Linked DNA regions of Homo sapiens. The protein of the gene in region 1 purifies or fractionates together with the protein of each later gene. This does not show direct contact. Each region holds a gene or a part of one and is shown in the gene's direction. Other genes may lie near its edges.

Region 1 (3,748 bases):
TAAAAAAAATTCAGTTATGTAACAGTAAAGAAAATTCATCTGTGTAGAAAAATAATCAAAAGATACAGAAAGTTATAAAAAGTAAGAGTCATGGCCATTCCAGCCACTGGTTCTAATTACAGACGATAGCCATATCAACACTTCCTGTGTTTCCTCCCAAACCATTATTCTTACAGCAACATGTATGTGCCTGTGTTATTACCCACATAGCACCTTACTGTATACTAACTCTAAAAAATGGAAAATGATTACATTCTTGTGGTGTTTTGTAAACCTGACAATACTTTTCTGCATCATCATTTTCTAGTCACCCTCCTGCTTTTTCATGGTTGTTTAATGTGCCATTTTAATGGTTCAAAATTAGTGGTTAATTGTTGTTAAATAATGATTAATGTTTTAATAGTTGTTTAAAACAAGGTGTTAGATTGTATGAAAGGCTGTAATCTATTTACTCATTCCACCAATAATGGAAATTTTTAAAGTAATTTGTTGTTTTGTTTGTTTGCTACATGCCACTATTTCTGTATCAGTTTCCTTCATCATAGCTCTCTCGGTGCTGATGTCAGCACAATCTTATTGTTTTGACATTTTTCTCTAACCATATTGAGACTGTTCTCACAACAAAATATGCACATCTTAAAATACCATCTGGCTTCTCAGGTCCACTTGAGACTGGTGACCTCACTTTTGACCTTGCCCTAAAAGTCAACTGGAGTCCATATACCTCAGGTACAAACAGCTTTAATAAGCTGCCACTTCCTGTTCCTCTCATCTTCTCTCTATGGCAGGACTCAGAGCATTAACTAACCTAAGGGCCTGGTAGAATGTAAGCTGGAGGTAGAGTAGTTAAAGTCTGTGCATTTTGTACTGGTCATTTTCCAGTTCGTCTGTTGCTAAGAAACAGCAACAGAGGCCCGCTCTAGAGGGTTACAAACTCCCTGGAATTATGGCTCCCGGACATGGTGTAGGGAAAGGTGTCCCACAGGGATCAAGCCTAGAATATCGCTGGATCTTGTACAGTTTAGTAAAGGGCAGGACTGGATTTAACATAACGTCCACCAAACTACATTACTGAAAATTTTTGGTGCTTCACTCAACTAGTCTCATTGACTAGAAGTGAAAATATGTTTTTCTCAATATTACCAGCTTTAAATTTGCCATAAACTGTTGTGGGACCAAGCCACAGAGGAAATGTTTTTCCGCTAGACAAAGATAAGCATGAGGATGCCAGCAACAGAGGATATTCCTTTTAAGGTCTGTCCATTGCAAAGTACACACGTACACGCTCACACAACAAACACGCCCTGTTCCCTTTTGCTTGTGTTAACCACTGAGGGCAGATCTCTGAATAATAATACATTTAGTGGGTCCACAAGAGCTGCATTTCCTCTGCTCCAGAATTCATGCAAGGAGCACGGCTGGGGCTTCTCCACTGTCATTGTTATGGCCTCAAATGAAGGCCTTGTCACCAGGCGGGGGCGGGAAGGCACTGGAGCGCAGCAGCATTGAGAGCATCCGAATTCCCTCCTCTGTCCCTGATTGGTTGAAGAACTGGGGAGCACCGACCAGCCCCCTGCGGCTCGACTCGCCATTGGCTGGGAAGAGGTGGCAATCAGGGCGGGCCAAGGCGGCTGTTCTCGCTCCAGCTCGATGCTGCCTCCCCGGCCCGGTTGCGCTGTAGCCGCTGCCGCCTCTGCCTGGGTCCCTTCGGCCGTACCTCTGCGTGGGGGCTGCCTCCCCGGCTCCCGGTGCAGACACCATGGTAAGTGCTCTCAGCCGGGTGCGGCCCGAACCTCACCCCTCCTCGGCCGGCCTGGCAGCGAGGGAACTGGCCGCGCAGCCGGAGCTTGGCTCGGGGGCCCTGGGCGCTCACTGCCGGCCACGGGAGCAGCCTCACTCCTTGCCCGCGCCCAGTCAGGGGAGGTGGGAACGCCGCGAGTCGTGGCGGGGGCGATCGGTGCCTTTGCTTCCCAGGCGGGTTTGCCGCTCCACACCGCAGCTTCCTGAGCTCGGGAAGGGGAGGTGCGGCGGAGGCGTGGGGTCTTCCCGGCTCTGGCCGGCCCCACCAGTGTGGGAGGCTGAGCGCCAGCGGAAGGGAAGGCTCCGGGTTCGCGTCCCCGCGCTGCCCCCGATGCCCAGCCTCTCCCGGAGCGGTGACAGGTGAGGAGGGTGGGAAGATAGCGTGGGGGTGGGGCGGATGGTGACGGGGAGAATCCACCAGGGATTGGGGGGTTGCGCCCCCACGATCCGACTCCTTTAGTGCATAGTACCCCTAAGGGAGAGGAGTCAGGGGCGGGGTGAAAGGTTAAGCCAGCGCCATGGGAGCAGAGGCAGCAGCCTCGCCCCCAAGCCGCTTCTCAGGTACAGCGGGTCCCTGACGCTCAAGTCTCTCCCTGTCCCCGCAGTACGGATTTGTGAATCACGCCCTGGAGTTGCTGGTGATCCGCAATTACGGCCCCGAGGTGTGGGAAGACATCAAGTAAGTGGCCGGCTACCCTGGCTGTGGCCCAGGTCGGCGCCCAGTGTGGGAGGCCCCCCGCGCCTCGCCTGGTCCTCAGCCTGCTGGCCGGGTCGCGGGCGCGCATCCTTGGAGGTGCCTCCGCGCCTCGCTCCCGGCTCGCTGCAGCTGCGCTCCCACGCTCCGGGACTGGAACCAGGAGGGGAGGGGCGGCTGGGGCGGGGCTGCGAGGGCGAGAACCGCGGAAAGGAGCCCCTAGGGGTCACCACGGCTTCCCGACCCGGCCTGAGCGTGGGAACGCGCTGCCGGCGCTCCCAGGCTCAGCAGGCCGGGCAGCTCCCACGCGTGCAGAGCCCCGAGGGACCACACGGGCCTCCGCGAGGTTCCTGCGCCCGGAGGCCTTAGAAACAAACGGAAGACTTTGGCTCCTTTATGATTTACACACCTGGCGTAAGTTAGGCCTTTTTGGTATGCTGAAACACGCGGGAGATTATTTCTTGAGCAACAGTGAATTAAGCGCATTTATTCATTTTTAAATAAAGTGAAAATTGGAAGTTTTTTGTTTTCCCCAAATCCCACTGCCCACCCCCCCCGCCCCAACCCCTATCCCCCGTTTTTTTCTACTGTGTTGAAGACTTAACAGTTCTAGGAGGCATTCTACTTTCAGTCCTGGAGCTTTGAGCCCAGTACTGGGGATGTGAACGGAAATACCACACCCACCTGAGAGTTTAAACCTGTTGGAATGACTGATGGGTCAGCATGTCTGCAGGCAGGTTGACTATTTCACTCTAATAAAGTTGTCTCTCCTTTTTCCTCTCACTCTCAAAAAATTTGCATTTAACTTATGGTACAGCTGACCACCACCAACTAGCTACTCCAAAACCCTATTTATGGATTTTCATATTAGAGCAACAGTCAGACTATCACATTGTAACAAAGGTGGAAGGAAGGGTTTCCTGGGTGGGCAGATGGGAATACACTGTTATTATTCACTCTGATTTCCTGTACTTAGTGATTTCATTTTGTTGTCTCAGGTAGGTGAGGCTTCCATGCTGTTTTTCCCTAAGCACATTACAATTATTAGCAATCAATTCTAACAGGCCTTATTATGCAGTTACATGATGGTGATTTCTCATAACGATCTGTTTCCATAGAAATGACCAGGGTTATATATTAAGCACGAAAATGTAACTTTTCTTTCCCCTGGATCTGTATCACTGAGCGTTTCTTTCATGTTTCAGAAACCATTTGTATTATCCACAGGGCATATTACCTACATATTATAAACAG
Region 2 (3,748 bases), on another chromosome or scaffold:
ATGTCCAATCACATAAAATGTTTTTGTCAAAATGGAATTATGAATGCTTTAGTAAACTGGAAGAAATATCTCTGAAGAATTTAGAAGAAAGTTGTCAGCAAAGCATTTATGGATGTAGTATTTGACCTGGGTCCTCCTTGCTACTTAAATCAGTTGGAATATTAACCTATGTTAATAGTGCAGCTGGAAGAGTAGTGGTTCCGTTCTCATTCTGGAGGGATGTTTTCATTCTGGCCCTGTCTGTTTGCTGTTTGATAAGAGAGTGGGAAAGGGAGGGGGTTATAAAGTCGTGATTTATTCACAAGGGCAAAGGGAAGGACAAGGAACTTGAGAAAATTACTCCATCTAGGGTTTCTGATCCATCATCATCCTTGTTCTGCGCTCACTCAGCCGTATCCAGCTCTACTGGGCATATCACTATTATTGCTATCAATTGTTTTGCTAGTTGCTTAGTCCCAAATCATTATCATCTTTTCTGTCATTCCACATTTAGGTATTTTATTCAACAAATAGACTGAATGCCTATTATATACCAGACACTCTTCTAAAGCACTGGGGAAAGATAGAGCATGGATCAAAACAACTTCCTGTTCTCCTGGAGTCTACAATTTTGTTTGGTGGTAGTGGAAGCGTAACTAAATATATATGATAAGTGCTATAGAGAAAAGCAAATTAGGGTTAGAATGGAACGAGATGCCCCGCTGGCCTGTAAGCTCCAGGAGGACGAGGACCTGCCCTCTCATTAAGGTATTTTCCGTGCTTAGAATGGTGTCTGCTACGTAGTAGATATCTATTATTGGTTGAATGAATAAGTGATGTTGACCATAGATAAATTAGTTCAAAACTTAGATTTTCAAATTATGTCAGTAGCAGGCACACATCTTAAATTGTTATATCACTCCAGTGCACGTCTTGCTGAAATTCAGAAGAGGAAGCTATTTCGTATGAAGCCAATAACCTCAAATCAGAAATGAAAACTGGGATATCACCTGTCATATCACTTGCCATCCTCGGCTAAGCCAGGAGAGTGTCCGGCCCAATATTCGGTAGCCTGGATACGTAGGTGTATTTAGTGAACGAAAGAATGAATCCTAGCCACTGCAAAGCTGCAAAACCCTCGGGGGTAGTGCTTGGCTTCTGCCAGTTCCACAAGTATTTTAATATTAGCTGAACAAATGAAATGACCAAAAAATAAATCGCGATTTTGTGTCAGATGAACTTGGGAAGGCGGATGCGCTTAGGGTCCGGCTGTAGCGAGTAAGACACTCCCTGCGAAGAGTTCTGTGGGGTACGAACTCCGGACTGCGAGTCCAGCTCACGAGTTTGTACCTAAAACCTTGCCCTGCGGGAGCGACGCTGTCCTAACGCGACCTGCCCTGCCCGTCAGCTCCTATTGGCTGACTCTCGGAAGACCCGCCTCTTGAGAAGGAAAAGCAGTCGCTTCCCGAATTGCCTGACATCATGCAATGACCAATCAGAAGCAGCGATCTTCAGTTTTGCCCAATGAGGCTGGTTACGGGTCCTGGCCCGCGGAGTTTGATTTCGTCCTGGGATGCGGAAGTAGCAGTCCTGTCATGCGGAAGTAGCAGTCCGGTCCTAGGGACTAGCAGGTGGGTTGGTTGGGCGCAGGAGGACGGGGGCGCGCTTCCCATAACATTACCCTGGCTGAGCGTGAGGCTCCAGGGCTGGGCACCGGGTTGACCTCTTATTCCTCGCTGAGGGCATCGTTACCGCCTGTGGCTGCAAGCCGAGGCGCGCGGGTGGAAACTGGGTCGAGGTCTGGGTAGACGTCTGAGCGATCTGCACAAGGAGTGGCGCAGTCTGGAATTTGATTGAGGATTCCTAACGCCCTCCGCTTGATGTTCTGGTGATTCCCGGGGGCTCGGCTTCGGAGGAAGGTGAGCAAGGCTACCACGCTGTGTTTGGAGAGCACCAGGAAGCTTGTGACCAAAGCGAGGGACGCGATCCGGCTCTGGTCACGGCCTGTTACTAGATGGGTGACCAAGTCACGTCCCGTATCTGGAATTCATGCTTCTCATTTTAAAAGAGTGAGGAGGGATGGGCATTCCACATGGCTGGGGAGGCCTCACAATCATTGCTGAAGGCAAATGAGTAGCAAAGTCACATTTTACATGGTGGCAGGCAAGAGGGCTTGTGCAGGGGAACTCCTGTTGATAAAACCATCACATCTCATGAGACTTATTCACTACCACGAGCATAGTATGGGGGAAGCTGCCCCCATGATTCAGTTATCTTCACCTGGCCCCACCCTTGACACGTGAGGATATGTGTGTGAGAAGAGCTACTGTTTATTTTTTTAAAAACTGAGTCGTCCCTTGCCTGCTTTCAAGGGTTGGCTAAACTCACCCATCTGCTAAGAGTCTCAGCCCAAAGCTTTCAGGAAAGAGCGAGCTTCGCTGTGGCATGTAACTTGAAGCCTTGCCTACTAAGTAGATGTCCAGTTTGTTGATTGGTCTCTATTAACTAGGCTCAAACATCCTACGAGGTTTTAATGTAATCTAACCAATTAATTGAAATTTCCTTTACAACCCTCTCTTTCCCCCAGACTTCCCCTTCCTTTCTTTTTCTCTGACTTAAAAGAATGCTGGCTAGGAGAAATTAGTTGACTGTGTCGTGTATCAAGAGGACTTTTCCAGGTTATGTAGTACAATTTGGCATTTATTTGTCAAGAGTAACATTTTCTAAAATTTTCCCCAAAGGCACCAAGAAACTGATAATGTTCCTTTGAATTGGCTTCTGTATTTGCTTCATCAATGTCTCTCATACTGAATATCTTAAGAGAGATGCTGGAATATTTTGGCGTTCCTGTAGAACAGGTAAATGTCGTTTTGGATTGGAATGGATCTGTTGTATTTGTTCTTGGGTTTCATTTTGAAAATGACTTATATGTAATCATTTGATTTAAGGCAAAGTTGTTGCTTCTTTTTAGTTGGAACAAAGGTGAGTTTGTAATAGTATAGCTTTGATGATTTGAGTTAGAAGAGGGATAAGATTATTGAGAACATATTTACCTGATAGGACAAATGCCAACAGAAGATACAAAGGAAGCAAAATATAGACATGAGCTTCACAGAATTACATTTATTGCACAGATACATTAAAACTTCTATTCAAGGTAATTTATAAACAAGTTCAATATTTAAAGCTCAATAAATCCAGAATAAATCTAATGGAAAGAGGATGATTTAGGCCTGAGAATTATAAGCTGTATTAGTCTGTTCTCATGCTGCTAATAAAGACATACCGGAGACTGGGTAATTTATAAAGGAAAGAGGTTTAATTGACTCACAGTTCCACATGGCTGGGGAGGCCTCACAATCATTGCTGAAGGCAAATGAGTAGCAAAGTCACATTTTACATGGTGGCAGGCAAGAGAGCTTGTGCAGGGGAACTCCTGTTTATAAAACCATCACATCTCATGAGACTTATTCACTACCACGAGCATAGTATGGGAGAAGCTGCCCCCATGATTCAGTTATCTTCACCTGGCCCCACCCTTGACACGTGAGGATAATTACAATTCAAGGTGAGATTTGGGTGGGGACACAGCCAAACCATATCATAAGCAAATCAAATTTTATCTACTTGTTGAAAATCTGCTGTATCTAAGACAATATGCTTGTTTCTGCAGGTAATACAGAGGAGTAATACATGGTTGTATTCATAATGCTTAAAATATGAGGAATAAGAAACAATAAAGATAACTGTAATATGAGATTGTAAGGAA

What was found.
Region 2: the proteins of GUCY1B1 (region 1) and MTFR2 purify together in Homo sapiens (affinity purification with mass spectrometry; 2 studies listed by BioGRID and IntAct, with this or other methods). This does not show direct contact.

The regions. Positions count from the first base shown.
Region 1 is NC_000004.12:155,757,382-155,761,129, forward strand, and holds the start of GUCY1B1 (guanylate cyclase soluble subunit beta-1), read left to right. Parts: upstream 1-1,639; 5' UTR 1,640-1,759; coding exon 1,760-1,762; intron 1,763-1,974; exon of another isoform or gene 1,975-2,160; intron 2,161-2,405; coding exon 2,406-2,479; intron 2,480-3,748. UniProt on the Homo sapiens protein: Mediates responses to nitric oxide (NO) by catalyzing the biosynthesis of the signaling molecule cGMP.
Region 2 is NC_000006.12:136,248,126-136,251,873, reverse strand, and holds the start of MTFR2 (mitochondrial fission regulator 2), read left to right. Parts: upstream 1-1,562; 5' UTR 1,563-1,898; intron 1,899-2,720; 5' UTR 2,721-2,774; coding exon 2,775-2,837; intron 2,838-3,748. UniProt on the Homo sapiens protein: May play a role in mitochondrial aerobic respiration essentially in the testis. Can also promote mitochondrial fission.